Linked DNA regions of Homo sapiens: region 2 is linked to region 1. The links come from fine-mapping of genetic effects on gene expression. Tissue or cell type: whole blood. Region 1 holds a variant in brackets; the other region holds the start of a gene. All regions are shown on one strand. Distances are from middle to middle.

Evidence for each region. PIP is the estimated chance that this variant, and not a neighbour inherited with it, causes the effect.
Region 2: EPSTI1 starts here. The variant in region 1 is fine-mapped to the expression of EPSTI1 in whole blood (TOPMed, PIP above 0.99).

What each region holds. Positions count from the first base shown.
Region 1 is chr13:42,921,833-42,929,941 of GRCh38, reverse strand. It overlaps EPSTI1 (epithelial stromal interaction 1), which reads left to right. Exons shown (of 11, transcript NM_033255.5): 7 at 3,513-3,606. Among named protein-coding and RNA genes, the nearest start is that of LINC00428, 53 kb to the right of the region's middle. The variant C/G (reference allele first, on the strand shown) is at 3,513.
Region 2 is chr13:42,987,980-42,996,088 of GRCh38, reverse strand. EPSTI1 (epithelial stromal interaction 1) reads left to right here and starts at 3,848. Exons shown (of 11, transcript NM_033255.5): 1 at 3,848-4,111. The coding sequence starts at 3,924. RefSeq lists enhancers at 3,215-3,454, 3,715-3,834.

The sequences.
Region 1 (8,109 bases):
AGCCAGCCCCACACTGGTCTTCCCACTGGCATTCTGGAAACTATTGTTCTATGAAATCTGGAATGGTATCTGCCAAGTCTTTCCCTAGTAAACACCACCATAGTCTGTGTGGGGTTTTTTATCCCCTTTTTATTTAAGAAACATTTCAAACACACAGAAAATATGCATCAACCACTAAGCTCATATTGTTAAGATATTACTTATATTTGGTTAATTAAAAAAGATAAATATTACAGAGACAGCTAGCTGTCCCTCCACCCTCATCCCTTCCTTCTCTGTCTTTCTCTAGCAGTAACCACTGTCCTGGTATGTAATATTTGTCAATGTGCGTTAACCAAAAACTACCAGGAATATACCTGTAGTTGAACAAGTTGGGTTTATTACTCATTGCAGCAAAGGAAAATGCATACCATAGGGAATGGTGAGTTATCTCAGGGAGAAAGTGTTAGAAAGACCCTACTACAGGATTTGTGCTTTGGTTGGGTAATTTTGGGGAGGGTCTACGGAGGCAGGGAGTTGCTCTGGATTGAGTGCCATCAGAATGTGGGGACAGTTTTATGATTGGGTATCTCAATAAATCTTACCTATAGGAAGGACCTAGAGTGACTACGAAGCTGTAATTAGTGAAGAAGTAGTGGTCATTCACTTAGAGGAGATGATGTTTGGTACTTTGTAGATTGCATGATGACCTTGTGTGAAGTAGATATTCTGTGTGACTATTTACATCCAACAGTGGAACAAGGCTTAACTTCAGTGTCAGATCAAATCAGTTTATAATAACACTGAGATTTAGACGTGAGCATCAGATCAGTTCCTGGATGCCAGGAGCTGCTCTTCTCACTTGGCAAGTGTTTCTAATTTTACTACATATAAGTGAATTCACAAAAAGCATAGACTGCTTTTTAAAATACCATTGTGTCATAATTTGAAAGGCAGCCTCCTCCACTCAGGTATTTAGGAACCAAAACTGATAGAGACTCCACCACCTTCAATGCACAACTTCCAGCATTTCCTTGAGGGCTGTCTCTGTTCCAGCCAGGAGAACAATGTATGGAGGCACATGCATGGGAATTTTCTAATAAGTTAGTACTGGATGTGGCATTCAACACTTCTCACATTCCATTGGTCAAGACTCAATCATATAGCCAACCTTAGCTGCAAGGGAGGCTAGGAAATGTAGCCAAGTTGTGTGGCCAGAAGAGGAGAATGTAAATTTTCATGACCATTTAGCAGTCTGCTACAACTGTATTCTGTTGAGGCGAGATTTTCCTGAAGGGACCTTTCAGGATATGCCATAGAAATCAACCTAAGAATGAGCAGGAAGGACCCTTAAAGATCCTAAGTTGGACATAAGTAAATTTTATTTTGTTCTATGGAGAATAGAGGAAGAAATCTTTCATGCTTGGATCAGAGTGACAAAGTGGAAGAGGACCACCCCTCTCCAACAGGCAGTAGAGTCACGGTAGTGATAATACCAAGAACCCCCAAGGGCAAGGTGAAAACAGTGCTAGAGTCCAGGGTTCTTAGTCCAGTTGGACTTCCCACGAGGATGTTTTCCTTCGTTTGCCCCTCAAACAGGTTCTACATCTTATTTTTGTTAAATATAACCAGAGTTACCTACAGGGATCCCACTTCAGTTCAGCCAATATATGGAAATTTTATATACCAGGGACTAATGCTAATAGTAGAAAAATATGAGTTAGTGTCGTAACATGGGACTTCCTTTGTATAGTTGATCACTTGGCAGTAATCCGCATACTCTGCAGGCCCCTACCTGTATTCCTCTGGCAGTCCTGTGACCCTGTCACTCTGCTTTATATCCTGCGGCATGAGTGGGGCAGTGATAATTGGCACAAGGACCACAGATAGAGGCTGGCTCTGCAGGCAGCTTTGTGCTTGGCGTTGGCAGGTAAGAAGCGGCAGTCAGTAAACTGAAGGGCTGCCTGTCAACTTGGTCTGAAGTTTCTTCCTTGCTTGTCACAGTGTTTCTTTTTCACTGCTTTCTCCTATGGCCTGCACTTGGCTTAGGATATTCAGAGATCTCATCCAAACTTCTGGCATCACTCTTCTTTTTATACTTTTGACTGATGACTTCATAAAGCCCCAGACAATGGGGCAGCTTCCACACTCTGTGACTTCATTAGTCTCCTTGTCTATTCTGGGCAAGATAAGTAATCTAAGACAAATGGAAAGGCTGCTCGTCTCAACTGCTGAATGTTTCTCAGGGTTCTGTATGTTGCTTCACTTTTATTTCTTCCTTCCCCAGATCAAGCTTCTGACCTTTTTCAAATGCCATGTTCTACCTAAGTAATATTTGAAGTGATGCTGGCACCTGTTTAGTTTCTAATTCCTTGTTTTGCTCCTACACTGGATGCCATTTGTTCTACCAGATACTTTGTGTTTCCTTTGATGCCCATGTCCTAAGTACTTGATGAATCAGATCTTAGCATTGGGCTTAAAATATTAGGGGGAAGCAGAGGGCTAGCAGGAGGAGGGAGGGAGATGGGAACAGGCTGCGCAAGTCTGGTGCAAAGTAAGTCAGTGCTCAATGAGGTATGTGGCTGTGAATGTGCAATGAAGAGATAAAAATCACACAAATTACATGAGAAAAGGACAAAGGCGTAGAAATTAATCAAGGGTAGGCAGAATGGGCCAGGCACTGAGGTAAGGACTAGGAAACAATTCCAGTGTTCTATGCTTGGCATAAGTGAGAGGGGAAATTGGGGTGGTGGTTTGGATTTTTAAGGTAAAAACAGAGAACTTCTTATTTAAACTGAGGACATTTCTAGGTCAATTTTTCAGAGCTAAAAAGAGATATTAGAAATGCAGTCTAGAATCAGCAGCACTTTTTAACCTCTATAGATAAACCCTATGGAGGGTTTATCCTCTCTCTGAAACAAAATGCAAAGGACTGTGTGTGTGTGTGTGTGTGTGTGTGTGTGTGTGTGTGTCTGTTAACAGAGGGTTCACTTTTGCTTTCAGAGTCCAAAAGGGCTCCATGATCCATAAATGGAAAAGAGCTACTGGATTAGAGGGTCTCTGTGTCCTAACAGTGGTCAAAGCCATGAGGCAGATGAGAGGGTAAAGGGCTTAATGTAAAACTGGTGTGAAGCAGGATGTTGTAGGGCGTGAATGTTCCACAGCTCCACCCTGAAGTCTGAGTGTTAAGCATTAAATGTTCAGATAGGAAATTAGGGCTGCATGCTGTGGAATGTGCTCTGGGAGAGGACTTGTATTTATGTCAGTAATATAAAGTGGAAAAAATGAGGTCATAAGCTCACATTTCATAAAGCTAGTTTTATAATTTTGTAATATTGTTCTTGAAGAATGCAATCTTGCAATAGCATTTTGTTTTGATTTCTGCTACACCTTGTTCTCAACGTAACTTTCTGTTCTGCTGAAGATAATTTTAATCATCACCCAAATAAGTCTAGGTTAGTATCCAAAGGAAAAATAAAGAATTATGTTCATATTTTTGTGAAGGCACTAACACCTGTTTGTGTTTCTGGTAG[C/G]AAAACCGCTGAGTTCTTGAGCAAACTGAACACAGAATCGCCAGACAGAAGTGCCTGTCAAAGTGCTGTTTGTGGCCCACAATCCTCAACATGGGTAAGTGAATTACTTTGCAGGGTGCTGCCTGGCACATTTTATAGAGGTATTTAGTGACTGAAGATGAGGGATATAGAGTGACTTGTACATCATAGAATGCTGGAACTAAAGACAGATGACCTGATCCGAAACTTTGACCTCAACTGTTGCCTGAGCTATAAAATAATGCTTGTATTATTTTATGGGCACCTGGACTAAAACAGCCTCAGAGAAGTTTTTCCTCTCACCCAACCATTCATTCACCCACCCATCCACCCATCCATTCTTCCATCCTTCCATCCTTCCTACCTTCCTTCCTTCCTTCCTTCCATCCATGCATCCATCCATCCTTCCTTCCATTCTTTAAATTCATAGGTCTATATAAGGCCTACTAAGTGCCTACAGTTTCTGCCCAATGAACCTTAGTAAAGGAGAACACTAATGGTTTTAAAGCAAACTGCTGAGCACAGAGCATATCACAATAAGAAAGCACTACTGCCTTATCAGGAAGAAGCATCTAAGTCAGACCATGTGCGTTAGATGCTTCTTGGGAAATGACACCAGAGCAGAAGCTTAAACTATGAATCAGTAAAGTGATGAGTCTTTCCAGGTATCAGAATTAATAAAGACACATAGAGCAAGAATTAAGGTATAAATGCAAGAAATAAGCATGGCTTGTGTTGCGGAAGAAGAGTTATGTAGCTGCAGTGCAGAAAAGTGAGCTAGAAGGATATAGAAATGAGCAGGAACGGTGAGGACCCTTTCCCAATGGTGTTACCTCTGGAAATTCAGGTGGGACAGTTCATTGTGTGAGTTGTCTTGATTACTGCAGGATGCTTAGTATCCCTAGGCCCTGGGCATGAAGGGCCAGTAGCGCCACCCAGACACTGAGACATCTAGAAATGCCCCCACACAGTGCTTACCAATGAGACATGTAGAAATGCCCCGCATACTGCGTGCTCATGGTGCTCCTGGTAGAAAACCACCACAGAAATTTGCATGCCACCTTGGAAAACCTAAACCCCATTCTGTGAGCACTGAGGGTATTGGAAATGTTTAAACAGGGAAAACTCAAGGTTAGATTTGTGTTTTCATTCTGGATCACATTGGCAACATTGTGAAGGAGGGCTCTAAAGGAATAGAGAAGCAGAGAGGCCCCCCAAGGCTTCTGTATCAGTCTGGGTAAAGAATGATGAAGACTTCAGCTAGGACAGCGGGGGAGAGGATGGAGAAGAGAGTGCAGGTCAGAAAACTGCTTAGAAGGTGAAAGCGGCAGGGCTTGTTTATTGACTTGCTAACTGGGGACAAGAAAGTAAGTGTAATTAAGGATGACTCTGGATAAGGGTTGTAGCTGAAAGAAAAGATGAATTTAAGTTTCTTAAAGTCTCAGGTTTCTCAGAGTTTGGGTAGCTAAATGAGTTGTTAAAGAACCCTCATCTTCATCTCCCCTTACCCCTTTCTCAATAGAGACCATGTTTTTAAATGTCAGGAAGATATTATGACACTCCTTAGGAAGAGGTCATTATACTCCTACTTAGAAATCTTTAGTTGTTTCCTAATTTTTTTCTTTCTGCTTCTAATGTGATGTTCTAAAGTCTAAATTCATCAGTGTGGGCCCTACAACTTATATTAAAGGAAATTCATCATCTCTCTTCCCTCACTGCTGGGCTCTGGGGGAAAGAGTTGAGAAGCTGTAGGCAGTGGAGTTAAATCATGTGTAGATGACAGCCCTAAACACCTGTCTGGATATCCTTGTGGCTGTCAGGGAGGGAGAGGGAGAACAGGAGTTGGATAGCTTTACCAGCTGGAGTTTCGCCTACCAGGCTGGTCTTCCTTTCCGTTCGAGGGCTCCCTGTATCCTGCAATGTGGAACACCTGGCAGAACTGCGTGTGCTGCTCTATTGATTTTGGCTCATTTCTTCAATTTAACAAGATCGTCCTGAATTTTAATATTGTCATCCAAAGCATTAGCAATGTTTCCCAGAGCTGCATTTTCTGTGGATTGATTAGTGCATTTGTCATAGGATCCTCAGAGCTATTAATAGAAAATATGGAGGGAGATTGGACCCAGGACGGTTCCTTATAAACTCCACGCAATAGCTGCTCCGATTTTGACCCCAAACTATTAATACGGTTTCAGTGTTCAATATATTTAATTGACTTTTTACCCATATTATACTCTTCTCATTCTGTCTCATCCATATGCATAGAATTCTTCTGAGAATGCTTTGCAGAATCATTTCTAATGGTGTAGGAAAATCAAATATGTACATTGCACTTCTGTGAAGAACATTTCTTTGTAAAAAGAGGACACCTGCAGTTTACTTTAGCTATGGTCAACTTATAGAATGTGAACACTATGTGATTGCCATCTATATGGGATGTGATGAGCTGGAAGAATTTATATATAATTTTTAATACTTTAATTTTACTACCTAATGTAACTTTCCTGAAAAGATTTTTCCTCTTGTACTTTTCTCCTTTAAAAGTGGATCTGCCATTGGCAGATGGGGATTTAATAAATACTAGAAAATTATGTCAATGTAAAAGATTACAAGAAAAATCCTTTAGTGGTTACAAGAAAATTCCTTTTGGCTTAGGACTTCAGACAAGAGATATTTACAGGGTTCACTTTTACATGTGGATTAATATAGTTCTCTGTATTGTGTGTGTAGGCAGAAGTACCAGCATCATCAGACCTTCCTCAGCGACCATCGCTGCATATTTCTAGTCAAATATGAAATGGTTTCTAGTCTCTGGTTTGCTGCCCCCATTTTTTATTTATTTATTTATTTTTAGACAGGGTCTCACTCTGTCACCCAGGCTGGAGTGCAGCAGCATGATCTTGGCTCACTGCAACCTCCACCTCCCAGGTTCAAGCCATCCTGCCACCTCAGCCTCCTAAGTGGCTGGGACCACAGGCACGCACCCCCACGCCCAGCTAACTTTTGTAGTTTTTGTAGAGACAGGGTTTTGCCACATTGCGCAGGGTGATCTCAAACTCCTGGGCTGAAATGATCCACCCACCTTGGCCTCCCAAAGTGCTGGGATTACAGGTGTGAGCCACCGCACCCGGCCTTATGCCCCTACTTCCTCAACGAAGAATAACGATGTGAAAAAATCTTATCCTGGTGTTTCACTTCCCCAAATCATTCAGTGGTCCCCCATATCTTCAAGGATAAAATCAAAATGTCTTAGCTTAGGCACAAAGTCCTTTCCTCTCTCTGTCCCTCCGTCTCTCCTTTAATTCTAGATTCTGTCTCTTTCTTTAGAATGGCCCCTTTCTAGTCCTCTGGGGTCTGGAGGACTGGCCTCGAGTCTAAATCTTTGCTTCTGCAAAGGGGTGAGGGGAAGCAAAGCTTTTGCAAGCAAGGTAAGGGGAAGCAAAGCTTTTGAAATCAGGAGCAAAGATTTAGATGCAGATCAATCTCAGGCCCCACTGCAGACCTCCTGAATCAGAGCTTGTATTTAATACAGTCCATGGAAGATGTGTGTGCACGTTAATGTCTGAGGGGCCAAGCTCTATAGCTCATGCCTCTCCAGCTCTCCTCTCTCACACTACTGTGAGCACTCAGTGCAGGTTGATTATTGTAATTTTTATCTACGTGTCACATGCTCATTCATTAAGAAGTCAAATAAAGTACTTAACATGTGTCCCTTTGCGCCGCTTGAATCCCACTTCCACCGCAACATTTGAACACTTCCCTTTGCTGCTGTAACAAATTACCACGAATGTAGTGACCTAATAGAACAAAAATTTATTCTCTTAACACTTCTGGAGGTCAGCAATAAAAATGGGTTTTAAAATGCTAAAATGAGGGTATCAACAGGAATGGTTCCTTTTGAAGCTTCCGGGGGGCATCTGTCCCCTGTCCCCGCAAACCCTTGGCACACGGCTGCATGGCTCCAGTTTAGCTTCCATCTCACCCAACCTTCTGCACCCTCCCTGACCTTTCTGCCTTCCTCTTATAATGACCCTTTTGATTACAATGGGCCCACCTGGACTATCCAGGCTAATCTCTCCACTTCCAGATCCTTAATTTCTGCAAAGTCCCTTTTGTCACATAAAGAAACATTCACAGATTCCAGGGATTGGGACGTCTTTGGGGGGCCATTATGCAACCCACCACCTGTTTCTTTTCTTAGTTAGCTCCGAATATCTGTTAATATGTGTTGGTATCTCTTGACTAATCAATTTTAGACCTTATTAACTCATTTCTTCCTCTCATTCTTATAATTATTCAGTAATTTGAGCTTTCCCTATTATGACTATATACACGTTTTCTCACTGCCAAGCCAGTCGGTATACTCTGGTTATATCTTCTGTACAACTCTTTAAACATTTTATTTTAGCGTTTTCTTAGTTTCCTTTGAACATTTGACTGTCTTCTGACAGCTTTTGTGACTGTTCTACAAAATGCCTCTTGACGCAAATTTCTAAACAATTTTCCAACTTATGCCTGTCAGATAACTTGTGGATTTTTTTTTTTCTCTCCCTCCTGGATCCCTCTTTCCTCCTGCTTT
Region 2 (8,109 bases), 66 kb before region 1:
CAGCCAAAATGTCTTTTGCTCAGATTAAACTCATTTACCAAAAGGAACGAATACATGATTATTTCCCAGAGGCAGTTTCATTTGAAAAGAAAAACATTTCCTAAATGAATCTCTAATTGGCCAAATTTCAGGTAAGGTAACAATCCCACTAGATTTCACTTCTTTCTCATGTCTCTTAAAACATATTCCTAGGTAATTGTCTAGTATGGTGGTTTTTCAAACTTTTAAAAGCCATTGAATTCTTGCCTCAAACAAAATTAGGCAGTGGCCTAGTGAGTAGAAGAGATAAGGGGCTAAAGTACTTGGCTAAATAGGGATAGGGGCCCAGGACCCTCCCCACTCACCTCTGCTTCTCTCCACCAGCCACTACTATAGAAAAACGCACCCAAGAACAACTCCAGTAAAAGGCCAGCCCTTATTTTCGCCCAAATGCACACACCTACGGTGAAAGAATGGATGATACACAAGTAGCCCATTCTCGGGCATCCAAAAGGAGCCTGTAGATGTCTGTTGCCATAATAAATCACATTCACTTTTTTTTGTTGTTGTTGTTGAGACGGAGTCTCGCTCTGTCACCCAGGCCGGAGTGCAGTGGCATGATTTCGGCTCACTGCAAGCTCCGCCTCCCGGGTTCACGCCATTCTCCTGCCTCAGCCTTCGGAATAGCTGGAACTACAGGCGCCCACCACCACGCCCGGCTAATTTTTTGTATTTTTAGTAGAGACAGGGTTTCACCGTATTAGCCAGGATGGTCTCGATCTCCTGACCTCGTGATCCGCCTGCCTCGGCCTCCCAAAGTGCTGGGATTACAGGTGTGAGCCACCGCATCCAGCCTCACATTCACATTTTTTAAAACACTTTGAGAATGTGGCAAAACAAGAAGTGAATGGAGTGAGAAATCTCAGGTAAAACAAGAAGTGAATGGAGTGAGAAATCTCAGGTTTGAAACTTTGGTGTGACATGTGGTTGTGTTGTGAAACAAATATGGTTAACTAAGTATATTCTTGAGGCCAACATCCCTATTACTAGCTCCTTTAGGAGAATCAGTTTTCCCCCAGTGTGGGTTTTCCCTTCCTCAAACTTTAAATTTCATCCAACCACCAAAATAATTTTCTCCTTTGAAACAAGAGTTCCAGGGGTATTTTCCTAGTAAAGAACAATGTGGAAGATGGCCTCCAGAAAGGCCCTGCTGTTCCTCTTTTTTGTTGATCTCTAGGTCTGCGTTTCTCACCCCGCTGGTACCTTACACCCAACAGCACCTAAACAGACTTTTAGAACTTCCCTCAAAGCTTGTCCCTCCTCTAGGTTAATGGTTCTACCTCGTATCCAGTCACAAAGCTAAAAGTCACCATAAAGACAGCAACCATTAAATTACTGGGGCTATAAGGTAGGCATACTGTGAAGATCAGGATTTTTCAACTTCAACACTGTTGACACGTGGGGCAGGACAACTCTTTGTCATGTGGGCCTATTCTGTGCATTGTAGGATGTTTAGGAGCATCCCCGGCCTTTACACACTAGATGCTAGCAGCACCTACCCACTTTGAGGCTTCACAATCAAAAATATGTCCAGGCATTGCCAGATGTCTGCTAGAGGAAAAATCAACTCCATTTGAGAACCACTGATGTGGATGATCTCTATTCCTCACAATACCCACATGAGGCAGAGGAGGAAACTGGATCTCTGAGGAATTAAGAGATTTGGCCTTGGTTGTGTGGCCAGTATGTGGCAAAGCTGGTCTCAAAGCACTATAAAAGCCATCTCCCCTTCTCTCTGCTGCCTTCCAGTACTCAATTCTCTCTTTCATCTAGTTTTTATCTATGCTAATCTCTCATGTGAAATGTCTTTTATGTTTTATTTATTTGTTTTGTAGAGATGAGGTCTTACCATGCTGCCCAGGCTGGCCTTAAACTCCTGGCCTCAGGTGATCCTCCTGCCTCAGCCTCCAAAAGTGCTGGGATTACAGGCATGAGCAACTGAGCCTGGCCCATGTGAAATGTCTTGATTTTGCTCCCCACTTTCTGGGTTGCCTTAGCTCAGATCTGTATTTCTTACCTAGACGTAACTAGGCTCTGAATTTATCTTCCCGATTTCAGTCTCTTCATCTTTCAATCTCCGTTTTCACATTGTTAGAAGCTAACTTTGTAAAACAGATATTATTGAGTAACTGCCCTATTGAAAAACTTCCTGTGCCTTCCACATTGCCTACAACAGTGGTTCCCAAAGGGTGATCCTGAGACTGGCATCATTGGTATCACCTGGAAATTTGTTAGAAATGCAAATCCTTGGGCCCCATCCCAGACCTGAATCAGAAACTATATATATATATTTTTGAGATGGAGTCTCTCTCTGTCGCCCAGGTGGAGGTGGGGTTTCGCCACGTTGGCTAGGCTGGTCTTCAACTCCTGATCTCCAGGTAATCCTCCTGCCTCGGCCTCCAAAAGTACTGGAATTACAGGAGTGAGCCACCGTGCCTGGCCATAAATCTGTTTTAACGCACCCTCCTCCAAGTGGTTCTGATGCTTACTGAAATTTGTGAAACTCTGGCCTACTCTACAAAACCCTAATGTCTTAGGATGGCATAGAAATCCTGACTGACTTTCCTACCATGTTCCTTGTCATTATTTTCTCCTCTCCTGTCCCACCCTGGCCCACCCTTCAATTTCATTCTTTCATTAGCTATCAAACCTGTATGTGTCTTTTTGTTCTAAGCACCAATAATATAAGGAAGACAGTCCAGCTCCTAACTGTCTTGCTGACCTAGGACTGGGGTGCTCCAGCCACATGACAACCCCTGGAATTAAGTACACACCATGTCATTTTAAGTGACAAGCCTCTGCCATAGCATCTCCTTCTTCTTGGTGAATTCCTATGTCTTTGGTGGCTCATTCTCAAATGTCCCTGTTCCTGAATTACTCAGAGGGCTAATCCCCAGTTTCTCTGTGCCTCCACAGCTGCCTGTCATTTCATTTATCCCAAAGTGGCATTCCCATTTGTTTACCTGTCTACTAGGATACTCCTAGAATGCAGGTAGCATGAGGGAAGAGCCTTCACTCATCTTTGTGTAGACGGCATTGTGACCCTGGTGACCAACCCTGGCACACATCAGAATCATCTGGGAGCTTTTCAAAAATATGAATGCCAGAGCTCACCCCTGAACCTACAGGAACTGAGCCTTACACATCCATATTTTAAAATGTCCCCACATCACCGTTGCACACTGTTCTGCACAGAGCAGGTATTTTTAATAGTTCTCGAATGTCTAGTCAATTACTTAGCAAGGCTGCCTGGAGAATCATGTCTACCTTAGCTTACTTCTCCGGCTTTGTAGGTTTTTGTTTTCTTTTGATTTCAGTTTCCATTTCCTCTAACTTGAAAGTATGTGCATTGGTAACAGCCACACAGCAGTCATTACTGATAAAAGGCGACATTTTGTTGAGATGATTTTAGTTATTGACCTAATCTCTGGTATTTTAAGGTTAATATATTTTTTACAGTCTCAAATATCCAGCGGTAACCTCAAATTAGAGTTGCCTGTTAAACAGTTTCTCAAGTATCTTTCAGGATTGTAGTCACTCTGCGGGCTAATCGCTCACCAGGTGTCCGTGGCTGATCCCAGTTATTCTGATTAACCTCTAAGGTGATTGTGAGACTTTAAACCGTCTCACCTGTAGCCGACCAAGCCAGCTCAAGTCAACATCCTGGGCTGTTAACCCGCGATAAGGTCGGACGGGGCCTCAGTGGAGAATACGTGGGGAAGTTCTCTGGGGCGGGCGCAGTCTGCTGCTGATTCTGAGAAACCGAAACTCAGCTGTTAAAACCGCTGCCTCTGCACTTTGGAATCCCATCTTGAGACTCGCTAAGCGTCCCAGCCGCATCCCTCCCGCAGCGACGGCGGCCCGGGACCCGCGGGCTGTGAACCATGAACACCCGCAATAGAGTGGTGAACTCCGGGCTCGGCGCCTCCCCTGCCTCCCGCCCGACCCGGGATCCCCAGGACCCTTCTGGGCGGCAAGGGGAGCTGAGCCCCGTGGAAGACCAGAGAGAGGGTTTGGAGGCAGCCCCTAAGGGCCCTTCGCGGGAGAGCGTCGTGCACGCGGGCCAGAGGCGGTGAGTATTTTAACAACCTGGCTTCGGGGCGGGAGCCCGGGCCCCAAACATACTCACTCACAAGCACCTTGGTCCTTGGAGTTTAAAACCACAGGGGCCCAACAACAGGGATTTTGACTGAATGAAAGCTCATTTGCTTAAATGAAAGTATCCATGCCGCACCTTATAAATTGAGTCGGCTAGTTTGCAGTCCTTTGGTAAATAACCAGCCCGGTTCCTTCCAGGAATACTACTTTCCTGATTTTTGTGACTGGCTACAGGATTGAAAGATATGGGTGTGTCGGAACTGCCTAGGCATCCAGTAAGATGTCATTTTCCAGGTATCTCCAGAACTCATACTCCAACCAGTATGGAAATAACTTTTCCCTTACTGTTTTTAAAAATTTGGTGCTGGGCCAGGCGCGTTGGCTCAAGCCTGTTATCCCAGCACTTTGGGAGGCCAAGGCAGGCAGATCACCTGAGGTCAGGAGTTCGAAACCAGCCTGGCCAACATGGTGAAACCCAGTCTTTACTAAAAATAAAAAATAAGCTGGGTGTGATGGCACGTGCCTGTAGTCCCAGCTACCTGGGAGGCTGAGGTAGGAGAATCGCTTGAACCCGGGAGGCGGAGGTTGCAGTGAGCGGAAATTGCGCCATTGCACTCCAGCCTGGGCAACAGAGCGAGACTGTCTCAAAACAAAACAAAACAGAAAAACAAAACTTGGTGTCCTAAACGGAATTACTGTATCAGACACTAACAGGTAAGGGTCAACAAGAAATGTGATATGGGGTAGAAGGTTCAAATTCTGCCTCTAGGTAGGAGCAAGCCTACGTCCCAGCAAGACTCGCAGATAAACTAGCCTCTTACAACCAGAGGAGTGGAGCTGAGAGAGTGAGGAGGTGAGTGACCATAGTACCTCTCATCCCTGATGTTGATATGTGCTCTATGCAGGAACAGATAGGTAGCTTTTATTCCTGGTCTTTGGTTCAGGGACTGCAGTGAGTATCCGGGAAACATTTATTAAGCAAGTGTCATGAGCCTCTCTTTCTAGCCAATGGAATGAACTTTAACTCAACAGTATGGTTTATCACAACATCACTGCCTTTGAAGTGCTGCCTCTGTGAATTGGAACTGTCCAGATGGTTTTATTTTTAGTCTCTCCTTTTTCATCGACTTCTAGTCTCTGAAAGACAAACCCTGGTTGCTAAGAAACAGTATATAACCTTATGGCCGATAAACAGTAGATTTTCTTTCATCCCTTAGCTTTTGGAAAGTACCAGGCCTTTAATATTATTATTTAGCTTAGGTTTACCCTTAGATGGGGTGGATAATCTGGAAATCAATTAGAGATTGTTGCATTTCTTTCCTCCTCAGAATAATTAGTGTCTCGCCACAGTAGAAGCAGCCAATTACTTTCAAGTAACCCACGTATCTACAAGCTATAGTACTTAACAGTAACAAAGGTCACAGACATATGGTCTCGTGTCCATGAATAGTTAACGATGAACATGATTTGCATGACTTTTTTCTGTTAAAAAGCATTTATTTAGATACAACCATTTATTTCTAAGCTCATATCATCGCATAAGTATTAACTGTTGCATCTGTTTTCTTATTTGGTTGTAATTACCCTGGAATCTTGCCAGATCAAATTGCTCAGAAAGAGGCAGCTTTCTGATGGGTTATCCAGGCCTTAATACCCTGAAGAGCTCACTGTACACTATTTTGCGATTCCTGAAAAGATTTTCAAATGAACCATTAAAAAAATACCAGGAAGTGTTTAGTTATCTCTCACAGAGTCTTCCTTTTTTTTTTTTTTTTTCCTCATGTGAACCAGTTGCAGTAAGTACAGAATTATATATTCCCTTTTAGGGGTTTGATGTCTGAGATCCTGTTGGGATGACTTTGAATTTTTGTTGCATCTCCATTAGTTACTTAGATTCACTTTCTCACTTGTTTCCTTTAATGAAGTTGGAAAACCAAGGAAAATGAATGGCAAATATCTCAGTAGAATTAGCTGCCTACCCGCTGCCCCAAAATAAAGAAGGCTTTATTTATTTTGGGGATAAAAATTAGAAACACTTTCTGATTTAAAAAAATGAAGAGGCCGGGCATGGTGTCTCACGCCTGTAATCCCAGCACTTTGGGAGGCCGAGGAGGGCGGATCACGAGGTCAGGAGATGGAGACCATCCTGGCTAACACAGTGAAACCCCGTCTCTACTAAAAATACAAAAAATTAGCTGGGCATGGTGGCAGGCGCCTGTAGTCCCAGCTACTTGGGAGGCTGAGGCAGGAGAATGGCGTGAACCCGGGAGGCAGAGCTTGCAGTGAGCCGAGATCGCGCCACTACACTCCAGCCTGGGCGACAGAGTGAGACTCTGTCTCAAAAACAAAACAAAACAAAACAAAAAGCAAAAAAAAAAAAAAAAGAAAAAAGAGGATAAAGTGCTTTAATAGTACAGTTTCATTTGTCCACTCATAATGTGAATTTATTTATATGGTAAAAGATTTGTCTTGTTTTGTGGGAATCCTTCCATTAATTTCCTCCTGCAGCCCCAGTGTGGGGATTAGGAATATGGGCTCTGATGCTGGGTAGACCTGGGTTCAAGTTCTGATTATGCCATCACTTGCTCTTTGAACAAAATCCTTAGCTACTTTATGCCTCAGTTTCCTCATTACTTAATATAAGACAATACCAACTTCATAGGGTTTTAATTTTTCCACGTGTATATGTGTAAAACATAACTTTATTCCTGGTAAAGTACTATGCTGTCACCCTTAAGTCGAATGTTTGTGCCTTGTTAAAAAAAAACACTGGTTTAAAACACCTACTTGTGGTCGGGCGCAGGGGCTTGTGCCTGTAACCTCAGCACTTTGGAAAGCCAATGTGGGAGGATTGCTTTAGTCCAGGAGTAACATAGGGAGTCCCTTGTCTCTCCAAAAAAAAAAAAAAAAAAAAAAAAATTTAAATTATCTGGGCACGGTGGCACATACCTCTGTCCCAGCTACTCAAGAGGCTGAGGCAGGAGGATAGCTTGAGCTCAGGAGCTCCAAGACTACAGTGAGCTGTGATTGTACCACTGTACTCCAGCCTGGGCAACAGAGTGAGACCCTGTCTCAAATAAATAAATAAATAAATAAATAAACCACCTATTTGCATAGAAAGAAAGTATACTAGTAAAAATCTGTGGCTATCAATATATTAAATTATTCTGAGTACCTCTGATAGACTCTCAGACAAGATTGAGTTCTTTTTTTTTTTTTTTGAGACAGAGTCTCGCTCTGTCGCTCAGGCTGGAGTGCAACAGCGCAATCTCAGCTCACCACAACCTCTGCCTCCCGTGTTCAAGCGACTCCTCTGCCTCAGCCTCCTGAGCAGCTGGTACCACAGGCACATGCCACCATGCCTGGCTAATTTTCGTATTTTTAGTAGAGACGGGGTTTCGCCACATTGGCCAGGCCGGTCTCAAACTCCTGACCTTGTGATCTGCCTGCCTCGGCCTCCCAAAGTGCTGGGATTACAGGCGTGAGCCACCGCGCCTGGCCAAGATTGAGTTCTTGATGGAATTTGGATTTAAGTTATTATAAGTATTTACTAATTCATACTGGCTTTCCCAATTATTTTTACTTGGTGATTTTTGTCTTGTCCTTAAATATCAAAGCTGTCTACACAAATTAAAAGAGAAAAAAGCTTACACAAACTTCTAATCCAAAGTAAACCTTTATCCTTCCTTTTAATATTCTGCTTGTTTGTAAATATTTTACATTATTTATATCACCTCTAGATAAATATAAGACAAAGACATGCATTTACCTAGTTTTATCCAATTCTGGGAAATGGGGTCTTGCCTGTGCTGGTAATATAGGGTTGAATTCACATTCATGTACTTGTCTAACCATACCTGGTCCTTTAGCTTGATGCTGTTTGAAGAAAATAAAAATATATTTTGAAAATGAACCTATAATATGGAATTTTATTTTACAGTTAACTTGAGCTGAATTTGTATGTAAATTATG